Linked DNA regions of Homo sapiens. The protein of the gene in region 4 purifies or fractionates together with the protein of the main gene of each other region. This does not show direct contact. Each region holds a gene or a part of one and is shown on either strand. Other genes may lie near its edges.

Region 1 (3,519 bases), on a different chromosome or scaffold from region 4:
GTCTTGCTCCCCACGATGAGCTCATTTACGGCCAGGGAGACTGAGGCCCCAGGACATAGCTGGTTAGTGTGTGGGAGCTGGATGGCTGCCCATGGCTGCCCCGGGGTCCCTGTACAGCACAGCGTAAGGGACACCACGATGAGGGATAGTCAGCTGTTCCTGGCTTAGTCCACAGCTGGACAGAGGTCCTCTCAGATGCAGACGTGATATCCTGTGTTGGCTGCTTCTGTGCCCAGCATGGAGACTTGCAGAGCGTTGGTCTTTGTGGGTCAGTGGCCTGTGCCGAGACCCCTGGAGAAGATGCTCAAGTGAAAACTGGGCTGGACACAGTGGCTCACATCTTAATCCCAGCACTTAGGGAGGCCGAGGCAGGAGGATCGCTTGAGTTCAGGAATTTCAGCCCAGCCTGGGCAACATTGTGAGACCATCTCTGCTTTTTTAATTAAAAAAAAAAAGAAGAAAACCCCACCCTGGCAGGAGAATGAAGGGACTGACTGGTAGATGGCATTGGGGTCACCAGCTGCCCCTTTCGGGATGAAACTGTTAGCTTTTCCTCTACCAAGAAAATTCCAGAGGGGTTAAGAAGTTAAGTGAACAAAACTAAACCCAGAAAGATTTCCGGAATGGAAAGTGGATGACTGGTTTGATCATCTCAAGGCTGAAGATGCTGCCCCGCATAGCTCCTGTAGCAGAAGCCAGGTCAGCTGAGGCTGCCAGTGCCACGGGGACATGGGCTGCCCTGCCCTAGACCCACTGTGTGCCCAGCGTGGTCTCTGCTCCGCTGCTTCTCAGTGTCTAGGAGGGACTAAGGACACTTGCCTTGGAAGGTGGTTGTGAGAATGAAGTGCGTGAGTAATGTCTGTCACATACTTAGTGTCCTTTAAGAATTAACTGTCCTTTATCCATTGATCTTTGTGGCAGAATTTTTCATGAATTTGAGACAAATGATCCCTTGAACTGTCCGTAACACGTGGGACAGAATGTGGACCCTGATCATTAGACCCTCGTGGTGAGGGAGGTGGGGCCCTGGCAGGCACAGTTTAAGTTTTGACGTGATTCTTTTTCCCATAATTTAGAATTTCAGCCGCGGACCGTAGACATCTTGAGGTTAGGGGATGTGCTTTATTGGGCTGTAGTCTCACATTCTGCTTGTGCCTGGCTGGTGTGAGTGTCAGCCTCCTACAGATGCCCCAAGGATGGGGACAAGGGCATGGATCTGAATCCCTCTCTGGCACCTGTCCTTGGAAGAGCCTGAGGAGAGTCGCTTAACATTTCCGAGCCCCATTTTCTCACTTCTAGAGCCAAGGGAAACAGCCTACCTCAATGAGTGGTTTTAAGGATTTAAAGTGATCATATGTGAGATGTTGATATTCATGTATGCGTTGCCCCTTAGGACCAGTGGTTCGGGTTGTGTGTGAATTTGCAGATACCAAATCTGCAAGTAATGAGGGTCAGCTCTGTGTTGAGTGAAGAAAGAAATGTGGCCTGTCCTGTGCTGCCCCCACCCCCAGGTGGACCTTCTCACCATGCCTTGCCTTCTCTCCTAGCGCACCTTTTGACAAGACAGCCAACATCACCTTCTCCCTCAATGCTGACGATGAGAACGTGAGTACTGCCCTGTCCCCTGGTTGTGGCGGGTGGAGGGGTGTGGGGCTGTGGGCAGTGTGGCCCATCCTCCCACCCCTGTGCCCTGCAGCCCAACGCCAACCTACTTGAGATATGCTACAAGGACCGCATCCAGCAGTTTGATGATGATGAGGAAGAGGAGGACGAGGAAGAGGCCCAGGGCTCAGGGGAGTCTGATGGAGAAGATGGCGCCTGGCAGGGCAGCCAGCTGGCCAGGGGGGCCCGTCTGGGCCAGCCACCTGGTGTCCGGTGAGTCCCCCTCCAGTTTCCCTTCTCCAAGCTTCCACCACACGGCAGGGCCAAGGGGTCCCCCCAACACATTTGGACTGAGGCTGAAGTGAATGAAGAAAATAAGGAACCTGCATTGGTGTGTGTATTAGTTGGGGGCACTTTCACTTTTGAGTGATAGAAATCTAATTCAAGGCCAAGCATGGTGGGCTCATGTAATCCCTGAGTGCCTGTAATCCCAGTACTTTGGGAGGCCAGGGCAGATGGATTGCTTGAGCTCAGGAGTTTGAGACCAGCCCTGGGCAACATAGGGAGATCCTGTCTCTACAAAAAATACAAAAGTTAGATGGGCATGGTGGTGTGCACCTGTAGTCCTGGCTACTCGGGAGGTTGAGGTGGGAGGATGGCTTGAGCCAGGGAGGCAGAGGTTGCAGTGAGCCGAGATCATACCACTGCACTCCAGTCTGGGCAACAGAGCCAGACTTGTCTCAAAAAAAAAGGTAGATGATGCATTAAGAAATCAACAAATTAGCCGGGCACAGTGGCTCAAGCCTGTAATCCCAGTACTTCGGGAGGAGGCCAAGGTGGATGGATCGCTTGAGCTCAGGAGTTTGAGACCTAGCCTGGGCAACATAGCGAAACCCTGTCTCTACAAAAATTACCTGGATGTGGTGACGTGTGCCTGTAGTCCCAGCTACTTGAGAGGCTGAGGTGGAAGGATCGCTTTACCCTGGGGGGCGGAGGTTGCAGTGAGTTGAGATCGCACCACTGCACTCCAGTCTGGGTGACAGAGACCTGGTCTCAAAAAAAAAAAAAAAAAAAAGAATCAACAAATTAAAAAAAATCAGCCGGGCACGGTGGCTCACGCCTGTAATCCCAGCACTTTGGGAGGCTGAGGCGGGCGGATCACGAGGTCAGGAGATCAAGACCATCCTGGCTAACATGGTGAAACCCCGTCTCTACTAAAAATACAAAAAATTTGCCGGGCGTGGTGGCGGGCACCTGTGGTCCCAGCGACTTGGGAGGCTGAGGCAGGAGAATGGCGTGAACCCGGAAGGCGGAGCTTGCAGTGAGCCAAGATTGCGCCACTGTACTCCAGCCTGGGCGACAGAGCGAGACTCTGTCTCAGAAAAAAAAAAAAAAAGGAATCTAATTCAAATGAGTTAAGTTATGAAAAGAAAGGGATAATCTCTGTGGCTGAAAAAATAGGCAGGTCCTGAGGTATGGCTTGGTCTGTGTGTGTCTCTCTCTTCCCGCCTCCCTGTCTCCTTCCTTCATCCCTTCACTTCACTTCCTCGTGTTAGCTCTCACACGTTTTCCTAGAAAGGGGGGTAAGATGGTCCCAGGCAGCTTCTCTCTTCTCTAATTCCAGTAAAATGAGAGATGATGACGTCCCTCTCCAATCAGGCTGTGATGACATTTTAGTGCAAATGTTACATTGTTTTTTTTTTTTCTCTTAATACTGGCCGGCCCCAGAGTCGCTGTGATGAAATGGGTTCATGCCATGTAGATTTGACAGCCTGAACACTAAGTCATCATCTGCAACTGAGTTTTTGACTCATGACTTTTGATTTCGGAATTAGGCTGTTTTCACTTTTTATTGACATGTAACATGCGTATAGACAAGTGTACATACAGATCCTGAGTGTGTGGCCAATGGATATC
Region 2 (3,519 bases), on a different chromosome or scaffold from region 4:
CTGATAATCTTCTATAAAATAAAACCCCTTCAAATCCACATAAACAGGCAACATTTTCAACAAGCATGATGAGCAAAATGAGTTTCCAGTATGAATTGGAAAAACCCAGTCAGCTGATTTCTTGACCCTCAGCTCCCTGGAGAGTGCCATTCTTGTCTGAGCCCTGCTGTGGGAACTGCGCCTGCTGACCATTGCTCAGCTTAGGTGTTTCTTCTGCAGTGTCTGTCATACCTCAGATGAATGAAAGTGGGAGCATTTCATTTTTCCCATTTCTTACAGGATTTACCCATCAGTTTATTCTGACAAAGAATTGCTGTACCATCATATTTTTCTTTCTGTCTGACAAAATACAAGTTGCAGTTAAACTAAGCTTAATCCATTCTGTTTCTTGGTATTCCAAGTTTTTCTTAATTTCTGCTTTAAAATTGAAAGTGAACGCAGTCTTAATGAAGGCTTGTTTTTTGACATCCTGAGTTCTCTACGCCAGGTGTATTAAAGAGTGGTCTTTTCTAAGAAGCGACTGTTTCATTGTGTCTTTTTTCAGATAGCTTTGGCTCTGCGGCACTGTCACTTGTTAAACATTGCGCACAGAGACCTCAAGCCTGAAAATCTGCTTTTTAAGGATAACTCTTTGGTGAGAAGACTGTTTTTCTGCATTTTAGTGCTGCAACTCTTAACATAGTTCAGGAGTGGGTGTGTTTGGAGCGCTCTGAATTCATGGTGAAAAAGCTTTAAGCCAAAGTGCTTCAAACAGCTTATTTCTTCAACTCGTTCCCTTGCTAGAGGCTCAGAGAAGCTGTACTACTGTACTCCCGGCATTGATAATTTTGGATGATACTGATATGTATTTGTGGGACTTAATGATTTTGGATATTATTTGGAGGACCTTTGGGAAGGGGCAGGAATCTGTATGCTGTTATATATTATCTCGTTTCATTTGCTGTTTTCCCTTTCAGCTCTGTCCCCTGCCCCATGTCTCACCAGATAAGTTGCTCTGTCTATCATGAAGCTTATGGCAGATATTAAAAGTGAAGTAGCATCCCAGATTGATGAGAGGTGATGGGCTTATAGAGTGAAGGGTCCCTAGGCCAAGACCTTGACGTTAGTGCTGCCCTTACAAGTTCTAAAGCAAAAATAGCTGTGTGAGTGGGTAGGAATTCCTTACTTCTGCATTACTAAGGACAGTTCCTCAGTGTGAATCATTGTCTCCAGACCTGGGGACATGTTATTTTCATAAGTTCGCATCTCAGCTGGAAAGAAACTTGTTAGATCTCAGGGTAACATGTCTTACACCTGGATTTTCCTTTAATGTTTACTGAGCACTCTGGAGCAGTGACTCCTTTTTTTTTTAATTTCAGGATGCCCCAGTGAAGTTGTGTGACTTTGGATTTGCCAAGATTGACCAAGGTGACTTGATGACACCCCAGTTCACCCCTTATTATGTAGCACCCCAGGTAAGCATGTGCGGTTTCTGTCCTAAGATCTGTCACCAAGCTGCCCATCAACTCGTGTTCCTTCTATTCTACAGCACAAGTAGGCATATATTACAGATGGGAGGGGGAGAACTTAGCTTTAGAAACCTACAGATTGCTTTATTTGGTGTAGATCTTTTATTCTTTTAAAATCAACTTTAGCCAGGTGCGGTGGCTCACGCCTTTAATCCCAGCACTTTGGGAGGCTGAGGCGGGTGGATTACAAGTTCAGGAGATGGAGACCATCCTGGATAACACGGTGAAACCCTGTCTCTACTAAAAAAAATATAAAAAATTAGCCGAGTGTGGTGGCGCACACCTGTAATTCGTGCTACTCAGGAGGCTGAGGCAGGAGAATCGCTTGAACCTGGGAAGTGGAGGTTGCAAGGAGCCGAGATGGCACCACTGCACTCTAGCTTGGGCGACAGAGCGAGACTCCGTCTCAAAAAAAAATAAATAAAATAAAATAAACTTTATTGAGGTATGATTTAGAAGTATGATTTACATACAGTAAAATACCTCCACTTCAAGGAGAGTTTGATGAGTTGTGACAAATATATACCCCATATGGCGACCACCACATTGAAGATGTGGAACACGCCCCTCACTTCACAAGCTGCCTGTGCCACTTTGCAGTCAGTCCCCTCCCAACTTAACCCCTGGCCCTAGGCAACCACTGACATGCTTTCTGTCATTATTGGTTAGTTTTGCCTGTTGAAGAATTTCAGAAAAATGTAATCGTGGACTTTGTATGCTTCATTTCTTTTGCTTAGCATGTTTTTGAGATTTGTCCATGTTCCTGCATTTATCACTCGTTAATTCCTTTTCATTGCCAAGTAGTATTTCATTATATACCTAAGCTGCATTTGTTTTTTCCATTCACTGACAGGATTTTGGGTTGTTTCTCATTTTTGGCTATTATGAAGAAAGCTGCTAGGAACACTTCTTTTACAGTTTTTGGGGGACATGTTCCCCCATGCCCATATCTTTTTTCCAAAATGGCTATACCATTTTATGCGTCTACCAGCAACGTATAGAGTTCCAGTCATTTCACATTTTTACTAACGCCTCATGCTTGTTGCTTGTCAGCATTTGTCATCTTAGTCATTCTGGTAGCGGGCAGAGTATTACTTCATTATAGTTTTAATCACGACATTGTCCTGATGGCCACTATTTTGGAGCACTTTTTGTACATGTGTATTGGCCATTCTGTTGTAAGTATGGGCATTCATCTTTTGCCATTTTGTTATTGTTGGTTTCTTGTTAAAGAATTGAGGTATAAGAATTTTAAAATATTCTGGACACAGGTTCTTTGCCATATGTATGTTGTATTCTTACTGCTGCTGTAACATATTGTCACAAACTTAGTAGATAAAAACAACAGAAATGTATTATCTTATACTTCTGGAAATGAGAAGTCTGAAATGGTACTCAGTGCTATAATCAAGGTGTCAGCAGGGCTGTGTTCCTTCTGGAGGCATTTCTTGCCTTTTCCAGCTTCTAGAGGCTGCCTACATTATTTGGCTTGTAGCCTCTTCCTTCATCATCAGAGCCAGTAGCATAGCATCTTCCAATGAGTGTCTCTCTCTATGACTTTGACCCTCTTGCCTGCCTCTTATAAGGACCCTACTGATCACATTGGCCTTACCTAGATAACTCCCCATTTTAAGATTCTTAACTTAATTGTTCTGCAATACAAGGTAAAATAATCCCAGGGATTATAACATGGACATCTTGGGGGGCCATTATTCTGCCTTCCATATATATATCATGAATATTCATCTCAGTCTGTGACTTGCCTTTTAATTTTCTTAATGGCCTTTGAATAGCAGAAGTTTTGAATTTTAATGAAGTCTGTTTCACCATTTTTTTTTTAATGCTTAGTACTTTTTGTTCCTAAGATCCACAAGCATAAATATTTTCTCTGATGTTTTCTTATAAGAGGTTATAGCTTTAGCTTTTACATTTGGGTCTGTAATTCATCTGAGTTTGTGTGTGTATGAAATGAGAGACCAGGTTCTTTTTTTCCCCCTTAAGGGTGTCAAGT
Region 3 (3,519 bases), on a different chromosome or scaffold from region 4:
CAGGAAGCATCTTCGGAAAACTAGACTTGAATTACTACACAAAGAATATGAGGTAAACAGTAATCAAAGTTTAAAATTATGTTAGCAGTGAATTCAAGGTAAAAACTGACCTACCTCAGTCCCCAGACTTCTTAGAGTAAATATCCAATGAAATTTTATTTTAAAAGCCTATAAAAAGAAATTGTTTGATAAATTCTTTTTTCTTTTTTCCTTTCGTATTTTAAATAGAGGAAAGAGATTTTTTGTTTTATTTTTTTTCTTTAAGTACCAAGGAATGGGGGAATGGGATTCCAGAAAAAAGGAACAGATGGAAGCATTTCTTTCTTTTTTTTTTTTTTTTAAGTTAAAATTTGTACCTCCACAGACATATCATTTTGTATTTGCTTCCTCAAGAAGTTGGGAGAAAAAGGAAATCTCCTTGTGAAAGCCAGTCTGACCTCTGCAGTCATCAGTTGCTTCTGCCTATGAAGTTACTGATGATTATAAGCCTGATCAATTCTAGTAAAGTAAATACTATACCTTATGTCAACTGCCAGCACAGAGATTTTAGTGTGAAACATGCTGTTTCCTAATTATTGTCTAAAGGTGAATGAACAGGATGATTGGACATGGTGATGCTATTTTTACAAATAAATTCATGCTAATAGAATACATACACTTTTGAATAGTACACATTAAGCCCAGTTGTCATTTTATGTTGACTGAAGAAGGAGATATCGATCCCCTCTTGACTCAAAATATCTTTCAGTTTAACTGTGTACATGGAAGGTGCCTCAACTGCCTCAAAAATTTTTGGAATGCAGTGGGGTATAAATACATGATTGAATATATGTTTATTCATATATGTGTTCCTTACATATATGAATTTGCTTGTTTTATGAAAATGCTATTTAAGTTGAAATGTATTGCAATTTAAAATAGTAAGTAGTACTATCTGTGTGACATTTAATGCTAAAATGTATTTTTATATAATGAATATTTATCATACTCAGATGGTAAACAAATTAATCCTTTGGGAGATCACTTGAGCTACTTGGGGGTTTATTTTCTAGCAGAATTTTTAACAACCTCAATTTAAGGTGACATATTTATTATAGATGAATAAATGGCATCATAGTAAGAAGTTCTAACCCAAATGTTTAGTGACTGGTTTTAGGATAATAAACATTTCCAGAGTGGGAAGGCTAATACTTGCAATAGTCACAGTAGTAATTGAAGAACCAGAATCCAGAAAAGTTGAAAATTCAAAATTAACTACAGATATTATTCTGGAATGAAAAGTAGAAGGAAATGGTAGATGGTTTCACTCATACTTCAAATATAGAAGTGAAAGTATAAATATCAAAACCCTAACAATCCTCTTTTTCTTTTTTGAGACAGAATCTCATTCTGTCACCCAGGCTGGAGTGCAGATGGCATGATCTCGGCTCACTGCAACCTCCGCCTCCTGGGTTCAAGCAATTCTCCTGCCTCAGCCTCTCAAGTAGCTGGGACTGCCGGTGCCTGCCACCACACTCAGCTAATTTTTTGTATTTTTAGTAGAGGCGAGGTTTCATCATGTTGGCCAGGCTAGTCTTGAACTCCTGACCTCAGCTGGCCCACCTGCCTTGGCCTCCCGAAGTGCTGGGATTACAGGCACGATCATCTTGATAACTCTGTACAGTCAGCCCACCATATCCAAGGATTCATCATCTGTGGATTCAAACAACCAAGATTGAAAATTAAAAAAATAAATATATATAAAAATAATGTAGTTTAATAACTATTTGTATGACATTTACTTTGTATTGGTTATTATAAATAATCTAGAGATGACTTAAAATGTATGGAAAGATGTATGTAGGTTATATGCAAATACAGCACTAGTGATTTTCCATCAGGAACTTGAACATCCATGGATTTTGGTATCCCTAAGGGTCCTAGAACCAATCCCCTGTAGATGTGGGGATGAGGTGGGGACAAACTGTACCTTTTTTTTTTTTAACCCGGCCCCCCTCAATGTACTTTCAAATTCCCCTCAGTAAAGCAGTTGAGTATGCCTCAAGTTTTTTGTTTTTTTGTTCTTTTTTGAAATGGAATCTACTTCCCTGTTGGAATTCATGTGACTTTTCTTATTTTCTGGATGATATCTTTTTTTTGTTTGTTTGTTTTGTTTTGTTTTTGTTTTTGTTTTTGTTTTTAATTATACTTTAAGTTTTAGGGTACATGTGCACATTGTGCAGGTTAGTTACCTATGTATACATGTGCCATGCTGGTGCGCTGCACCCACTAACTCGTCATCTAGCATTAGGTATATCTCCCAGTGCTATCCCTCCCCCCTCCCCCCACCCCACAACAGTCCCCAGAGTGTGATATTCCCCTTCCTGTGTCCATGTGATCTCATTGTTCAATTCCCACCTATGAATGAGAATATGCGGTGTTTGGTTTTTTGTTCTTGCGATAGTTTACTGAGAATGTTGATTTCCAATTTCATCCATGTCCCTACAAAGGACATGAACTCATCATTTTTTATGGCTGCATAGTATTCCATGGTGTATATGTGCCACATTTTCTTAATCCAGTCTATCATTGTTGGACATTTGGGTTGGTTCCAAGTCTTTGCTATTGTGAATAATGCCGCAATAAACATACGTGTGCATGTGTCTTTATAGCAGCATGATTTATAGTCCTTTGGGTATATACCCAGTAATGGGATGGCTGGGTCAAATGGTATTCCTAGTTCTAGATCCCTGAGGAATCGCCACACTGACTTCCACGATGGTTGAACTAGTTTACAGTCCCACCAACAGTGTAAAAGTGTTCCTATTTCTCCACCTGGATGATATCTTAAATAGAATCAAAGATTTGGCATTTTTAAAAATCACAACTAACATTGAATTAAAATGAAGGCAACATAAATCCCAATTTTTATCAGTCAGGCCACATTTTGAGAATTTAAACTGTATGTGACTTTCTCCCTGCAAAACTCTTTTGATATGTAAAGAATCTATGTATCTACAGAATTTTAAGTACAAAATTCAAACCATGTTGGCTTCAGTTTAGCATATGTATGTATGTGTTTAGTGTCTATGCCTGCCTCATGACTATGCAATGCTTTTTCAGGACGAAATAGATTGTTTACAGAAAGAAGTAGAAGAGCTTAAGAGTAAAAATCTCAGCTTGGAGTCACAGATCAAAACTATTCTGGATCCTTTAACCTTGGTGCAGGGCAACCAAAATGAAGACAAACATCTAGTCACAGATAATCCAAGTAAAATTAACCCAGAAACTGTAGCAGAGTGGAAGAAAAAACTCAGAACAGCTAATGAAATCTATGAAAAAGTGAAAGATGATGTGGATAAGCTAAAGGAGGTAAGTTGTGGTTTTTAAAAATCTATTATGGTTGTTTTTAAAATAAGTACCTTCAAAAGCATAAATAGCCATATTATCTTGACTCATCATCAGATGATTTGTGAGGAAAGGACAGAATCTCTGGATGAGCATTTATATGCAATAAGAAGACTTTTTCTTATTTAAATA
Region 4 (3,519 bases):
TCTCGCTCTCTCACCCAGGCTGGAGGGCAGTCACTGCAAGCTCCGCCTCCTGGGTTCACGCCATTCCCTGCCTCAGCCTCCCGAGTAGCTGGGACTACAGGTGCCCACCACCACGTCCGGCTAATTTTTTGTATTTTTAGTAGATACAGGGTTTTACCGTGTTAGCCAGGATGGTCTTGATCTCCTGACCTCGTGATCTGCCTGCCTCGGCCTCCTAAAGTGCTGGGATTACAGGTGTGAGCCACCGCGCCCGGCCTGGGTTGTAGCCTCTTTAGGGAGTGGGAACACCTGTGTTCCCCTCAGGACGTACGACCTCAACCCAAAAGAACAGATTCACTTGCTGGGGGAAAAATAAGGCTGCCCCAATTTATTAAAAGGAGACCTAGAAATTCTTTAACAATAATAATAATAAAGGATAGTCTTTGAGGCAGCAATTCACTTCTAGAAATTTATCCTGCAGATGATACCTAAGGTGGGCAAAATCATATGTATGAAGAAAGTCACTTCAGCAGAAGTGTTTAGAGAGTAGAATGCAGAAAATAACCCAAGTGTTTGTTAGCAGAGAGCTTGTTGAATAAATTACACTCACAGTGGGACACATCATAGCCACAAATGACCCAGACCTGCATGTGCCAAAGTGGAACTATCTCTAAGATAGTAAGTAAATCACAGCAAGCAATTGCATCCTTTCCCCTCTAGGATCTTGATTACAGAGCCTGGGAGGATATGCGGGGGCTGCTGTGGGCCCTCGACTACCTTCGAGGTCAGAGTCTCACCTGAGCAGGTGGAGGAGAAAGAAGTGCTCTTGTTTCAGATCATTTTCTCGTTTACTTTCTTTACACCACAAACCCAAGGACAAATCATGTAAAAAAATCTCCCAAATTCCAAAGGGCCTGTTTGAAGGCCCGCCCACCAGCACACCCCTCACTATAGTCCAATCCAGCTGAGGGACAGCTTCTGGCTCCCTTAGAACTTCAAGGGTCAAGGACACTGGGCAGCTTTCTCTCCCTTCCCTGAAGGTTCTGAGCAAGTCCTGGGTGGCCTCTGGCAGATATCAGTCCTTCCTGAGAAGAAGGACTGAATCTGCTGAGCCAGCTTCAGGCAGCAAATCCAATTTCCAGACCTCTCTCTAGATAAGATCTCCAGGGGGCACTGAGAAAGCCTCTCTCCCCTGAGGGTCTCTGCTGTTCAGGACCCCATCAGTGGGCTGTAGTATGCTGAATCGGGGTGGATATTGCCAGAGGGAAGGGTTGCTCTTAGGGCTATTGGAAGGCTGAAGATTTATCGCTTTATAGATGTGAAACATGAAGAGGTTCACCTCCCTGGTTAAATCTGGGCAGAGGAAAGGTGAAGGAAGGAAAGCTGCCCTTCTCCCAGGTGCTGATTCAGGCGAAAGCAAAGGGAAGCCTGGCCCAAGTCCAGACAGGGGTCTACAAGACCTTCCAACTGATCCTCTCCCGAGAGGGTGTGCCCAGGGTTTACTGAACGAAGCTGGCAGATTTCACTGGCCATTATCTTCTCCTTGAGCCATCCCTATCTCTGCACTATCATTCACTCTGTCACCCAAACCAAGGACCTCAAGGTTACCTGTCACCATTCCTCCTCCCTCTGGCATCACTTCCAAACACTCCCAGAGTCCAGTTGATTTCCCCCCAAACAGCTCATCTCTGCTCTTCTTCTCAACCCTATTGCCTCTGCCCTGATCCAAGCCCCTCTCAGCCCTTGCTGGGATTACTGCAACAGCCTCCTATGGGGACTCCAACCTCTCCCCAACCCACTCCATCCTCCAAAGCAGATGCAGGTCTAATGGTATGTTTCCTCCACTTAATGCAAGGCATCCATCACCAACAGAATACAAAATTCAAGCATCTGCGCCCTAGTGCCTGCCTACCTCTCAGGCACATCCTGCAGTCAGTCCCTTCACACTCTGGGCTAGAACTCCTGTGGTTCCTAAAGTGCCACACAAATTACCACATATCCGTGCTTGTGCCAGGCTGCTCCCCCTGCCTGGAGGGCTTCATAGACCCCCAGAAAACTCTATTCATTCTTCACGATCCAATTCAAGTTCTTTTTTTGAGACAGGGTCTCACTCTGTTGTCCAGGCTCGAGTGCAGTGGTGTGATTACAGCTTACTGGGAGTTGGGAACTCCCAGGTTCAAGTGATCCTCCCACTTCAGCCTTCCAAGTAGCTGGAACTACAGGTACATGCCACCACGCTTAACTAATTTTTTTCTTTTTTAATTTTTGTAGAGATGGGGTCCCACTATGTTGGCCAGGCTGGTCTTCAATTTCTGGGCTCAAGCGATCCTCCTGCCTCGGCCTCCCAAAGTGTTGGGATTACAGGTGTGAGCTGCTGTGCCCAGTCCCAGTTCAAGTTCTAAGGGCTCTCTGAAGTTCTCCCCAGTCTCCTCCTCATCCTAGAGCTCGATCACTTCTTCCACTGGGTTCCCCCACATGCTATAGACTTCTGTGAGAGACTTGCCAAACTGTGCACATGTTAACTGGTTAGGAGCCTGCCCCTAGATCACAACCTCCTCCATGGTAGGGCCTGCCTCTCCATCCTCCTCCTGCCCCCAGGACCCAGCAGAGCCCCAGCCACACATGGGAGCTCATGTATGTGGAATCAGGGCTCTGTATTTTGAGCTACCACACTCATCAGTGTGTGTGATGCCTCTTGATGCTGCTTATTCAGGTACCAGACTAGGGTTGCTAGCAGGGACACACAGAGAAGAAATTCTAAATACATTTACTCCCATGTATACTTTTTTTTTTTTGAGACAGGGTCTCACTGTGTCACCTAAACTGGAATGCAGTGGTGCAATCTCGGCTCACTGCACCCTTGATCTCCTGGGCTCAAGAGATCCTTCCACCTCAGCCTCCCTAGTAGCTGGGACTACAGGTGCGTATGACCATGCCCAGCTAATTTTTGTATTTTTTGTAGAGACGGGTTTCGCCATGTTGCCCAGACTGGTCTTGAACTCCTAGGCTCAAGCGATCTGCCCATCTCGGCCTCCCAAAGTGCAGGGATTACAGGCGTTAGCCACCGCGCCTGGCCAACCCATGTATACTTTAAAGTACTATTTTTTTCTCAGCAGTCCTACTTCTATTTTTAAAAATAGTTCTTTTAAAGAGCCAAACTGAATCATCTGCATGGCTCCCATACAGACTGGGTAAACTCCCCTTAGATTTTCTTTTCAGAAAGAATAAAATAAAACTCTGTGATCTTGTGATCCCTCAGGACACTTCTGACAGCTCAATGGGACATAGTTCTAGTTGCCATGAATTGCTGCAACTAATTCCTAAAAGTTCTTTCCTGTAGCCTGTAATAAGAGCTAACATTTACTACTCAGTGTCTGTTAAGTACTCATCCTGTAACATCTTACTTACTCCTCACAACTGCCCTATTACGAAGGTACTCTTATTGTCCCCATTTTACAGATGAGAAAGCTGTGGTGGAGAGAATAAGTAATCCCTAGTGACCAGCAGGGATAGAAGTAGAACACAGATCTGTCTGATGGC
Region 5 (3,519 bases), on a different chromosome or scaffold from region 4:
ACCCTGAGCTGTGGTGTGGGCGTAAGAGGGGGAGACCGTGACATCCACCATCCCATCTTTCCCATTGATCATGAATCTGGCTAGCTGGGCAGTAGTGTCCCCTCACTTCCTCTTCACTTGGGGATTTTGCTCTCCCTAAACATTTGAATTTGAAGATGAAAGCTGTTCTTTGTTCAAGCATGTATGAGTGGACGCCCTACCCTCCTGGAGCGTCCATACACATAAGTACAATGCCAGAATACTTTCATTTTTGAAAGTAGGAAAACCAAATGGCCTTTGAAGGGGAAGTGGGCTTGGACTGCTGCCTTGGCATTTTATTTCAACCATATCCAGAAGCTGGCTGAACTCTAAATGTGGTTCACTCAAAAGCAAGATAAAGAATTTTTATCCTGCTTGGCTAATCCCTGTCAAGGCCCTGTCAAGGGATCTTAAAATTTAGTCAAAAAAGTATTTTGAAAACATTAGTCATTTGCTATATCACTAATTCGTAAAAGGCTGTTAGGCTGTGCTATAAATTCTGATTTTGTAAGTGAAAAATATAATTTGTACTTATTATTACGGGCTGAGGTAATGTTAATTTTCACCATGCTATAAATGCAATGAGGTAATTTGTATGTCTCCAGGAATCTTCTTCTTTGTTTTAAATCTTGTGTTTATTTGGTGTCAGTTGAAAGATATAAACCTTGTTCTGTGGTCTTTAGACATTGTACTTTAGTCTTAAAGGACTCACCAGTGAACTAGAAGATCTCATTGCCTCTCTCCAGGATAACAGTATGACCCTTTTGATGAAAGGCTGAAACAGTTTCTTAAAATCGTAACTTCCCAGAGCAATTCAGATTTATAAACCTGATGGACACTTAAAAGGATTTTGCTTAAAGGATAATTCAGGGTTGTGAGAGCTTGATGGCTTTGCCTACAGCCTGTTTTTCTTTCAAGCTCCATCGGCCTTTCTGGAATCAGTGTTTGATTCATGATTGAGTCAGGCCTCCAACCCTCTAAGCCACAGGTGAAACAATCTTTGATGTCTGGAAAGTTTTAATTTATTAGAGTGTTGGTGTTTCAGAGATCCTCCTTAGCTGTAGACAGAAAGCCGTAGTTAAACAGAACAGGTTGGCCCCAAAGTTGGGTACTCACTGGGCAGGGGAAAAGAGCATTTACCATGGAAAAACTATCTTGTTCTGGGTAAAAACAAAAATTAACACTCCTTGAGAGAAGGTTGAGGGCCACCTGTGGCTGACAGGTTAAATGAGAGATTTGTCATCACATGATCCAGAGCCTTGTTTTGTTTTGTTTTTATTACCTTCCTCTTTCTCTATTTAATCACATAGCTGTCTTTTTACCTCTTTACAACCAAGTATTTAGGCAAATACTAACAGAAAACGACTCAGAGTCATTTATACCCTGGAGCTGCACTGTGGAATTCAGTAGTGACTGGCCACAGTGAGCACTTGGAAAGTGGCTACTGAAACTGACAAGCTAAATTTTAAGTTTTTAAAAAATATTTAGTTGTGTTAAAAAAAAAAAAAAGCATGTAACGTAAAATTTACCATTTTAATCATTCTAAAGTTCAGCAGTGTTAAGTATATTCATATTGAAGTGCAACCAATGTCCAGAACTTTTTAAGTCCTGCAAAACTCAAACTCTATACCCATTAAACAACTCCCCATTTCCCCCTCCCCCCAGGCCCTGGCAGCCACTGTTTTAATTTCTGTTCCTATGAATTTAGCTACTTTATAGACCACATAAAAGTGAAATCATGCAGTGTTTGAATTTTTGTGCCTGGCTTATTTCACTTAGCATAATGTCCTCAAGGTTCATTCTTATTATAGCATATGTCAGAATTTCCTTCCTTTTTAGGGCTGAATTATATTCCATTATATTTGTATACCACATTTTGTTTATCAGTTCATGTGTTGGTGAACATTTGGGTTGCTTTCACCTCGTGGCTATTGTGAATAACGCTGCTATGAACATGGGAATATAGATATCTCTAGAGATTGTTCTTTCAATTTCACTTGATATATAGGGATTGCTGGATCATATAGTAATCCTATTTTCAATTTTTTGAGGAGCCTCCATGCCATTTTCCACAGCAGCTGTACCATTTTACATTCCCACTAACAGTGCACAAAGATTTCTGTATCTCCACATTCTCGCCAACAATCGTGATCTTGTTTTTTGATAACAGCCACCTTAAGGAATGTGAGGTGATGTCTTGTAGTTTTGGTTTGCATTTCTTTAATGATCAGTGATGGTGAACATATTTTCATATGCTTGTTGGCTTTTCATGTGTCATCGTTAGAAAAATGGCAATTCCAGTCTTTGCTCACTTTTTAATGGGGTTATTTTGTTTTTGTTGAATTGTAGAGTTATTTATATATTCTAGTAGTAACCCCTTATTAAATATATGACTTACAGATACTTTCTTCTATTCCATAGGTTGCCTTTTTACTCTACTGATTGTTTCCTTTGATATATAGAAGTGTTTAAGTTTGATGTTGTCCCATTTGTTTATTGTTAATTTATTGACACTTTATTGCCTACGCTTTTAGTGTTATATCCAAGAAATCAGTACCAAACACAGTGTCATGAAGCTTTTCACTTATGTTTTCTTCTAGAGGTTTTATAGTGTTAAGTCTTACATTTAAGTCTTTAATCCATTTTGAGTTAACTTTTGTATATTTTAGAAGGTAAGAGTCCAACTTCATTCTTTTGCATTTGGATATCCAGTTTTCCCTGCATCATTTGTTGAAGAGAATGTCCTTGTTTCATTGAGTGGTGTTAGCTTTTGACCATATACACAAGGGTTTGTTTCTGGGCTCTGGATTCTATTCCATTGGTCTATATATCTTTTTTTTTTTTGAGACAGTCTCACTCTGTCACCCATGCTGGAGTACAATGGCACAATCTCAGCTCACTGCAACCTCTGCCTCCCAGGCTCAAGCAATTCTCATGTCCAGCCTTCTGAGTAGCTGGGAATACAGGCATGTGCTACCACGCCCATCTAATTTTTGTATTTTTAGTAGAGAGAGGGTTTCGCCATGTAGGCCAGGCTGGTCTTGAACTCCTGACCTCAAGCGATCCACCCATCTCGGCCTCCCCAAATGCTGGGATTGCAGACATGAGTCGTAGTGCCCAGCCCCATATATCTATATCTGTCTTGATACCATTACCACACAGTACTGATCACTGTAGCTTTTCACCAATTGAGTATCTCTAATTCAAAAATACAGAATGCTCCAAAATGTGAAACTTTTTGAATACCAACATGACACTCAAAGGAGATGCTCATTGGAGCATTTCACATTTCCAGTTATATGGATTAAGGCTGCTAAAGCAGTAAGTGTTAATGCAAGTATTCCAGAATCTGAAATCTGCACACTGTAATCCCAATCATTTTGGATAAGGGATACTCAACCTGTAATATGTTGTGAAATCAGGAAATGTAAGAATTCCAACTTTGTTCTTTTTCAAGATTATTTTGGTTCTTCAGGATCCTTTGAAATTTTCTGTGAATTT

What was found.
Region 1: the proteins of STK40 (region 4) and PPP6R1 purify together in Homo sapiens (affinity purification with mass spectrometry, with the first as the bait; one large-scale study listed by BioGRID). This does not show direct contact.
Region 2: the proteins of STK40 (region 4) and MAPKAPK5 purify together in Homo sapiens (affinity purification with mass spectrometry, with the first as the bait; one large-scale study listed by BioGRID). This does not show direct contact.
Region 3: the proteins of STK40 (region 4) and OBI1 purify together in Homo sapiens (affinity purification with mass spectrometry, with the first as the bait; one large-scale study listed by BioGRID). This does not show direct contact.
Region 5: the proteins of STK40 (region 4) and MAP7 purify together in Homo sapiens (affinity purification with mass spectrometry, with the first as the bait; one large-scale study listed by BioGRID). This does not show direct contact.

What each region holds. Positions count from the first base shown.
Region 1 is NC_000019.10:55,234,999-55,238,517, reverse strand, and holds part of PPP6R1 (serine/threonine-protein phosphatase 6 regulatory subunit 1), read left to right. Parts: intron 1-1,547; coding exon 1,548-1,605; intron 1,606-1,696; coding exon 1,697-1,875; intron 1,876-3,519. UniProt on the Homo sapiens protein: Regulatory subunit of protein phosphatase 6 (PP6). May function as a scaffolding PP6 subunit. Involved in the PP6-mediated dephosphorylation of NFKBIE opposing its degradation in response to TNF-alpha.
Region 2 is NC_000012.12:111,869,727-111,873,245, forward strand, and holds part of MAPKAPK5 (MAP kinase-activated protein kinase 5), read left to right. Parts: intron 1-544; coding exon 545-634; intron 635-1,358; coding exon 1,359-1,454; intron 1,455-3,519. UniProt on the Homo sapiens protein: Tumor suppressor serine/threonine-protein kinase involved in mTORC1 signaling and post-transcriptional regulation. Phosphorylates FOXO3, ERK3/MAPK6, ERK4/MAPK4, HSP27/HSPB1, p53/TP53 and RHEB.
Region 3 is NC_000013.11:78,638,655-78,642,173, reverse strand, and holds part of OBI1 (ORC ubiquitin ligase 1), read left to right. Parts: coding exon 1-52; intron 53-3,102; coding exon 3,103-3,351; intron 3,352-3,519. UniProt on the Homo sapiens protein: E3 ubiquitin ligase essential for DNA replication origin activation during S phase.
Region 4 is NC_000001.11:36,379,424-36,382,942, forward strand, and holds part of STK40 (serine/threonine-protein kinase 40), read right to left. Parts: intron 1-3,519. UniProt on the Homo sapiens protein: May be a negative regulator of NF-kappa-B and p53-mediated gene transcription.
Region 5 is NC_000006.12:136,368,914-136,372,432, reverse strand, and holds part of MAP7 (ensconsin), read left to right. Parts: intron 1-3,519. UniProt on the Homo sapiens protein: Microtubule-stabilizing protein that may play an important role during reorganization of microtubules during polarization and differentiation of epithelial cells. Associates with microtubules in a dynamic manner.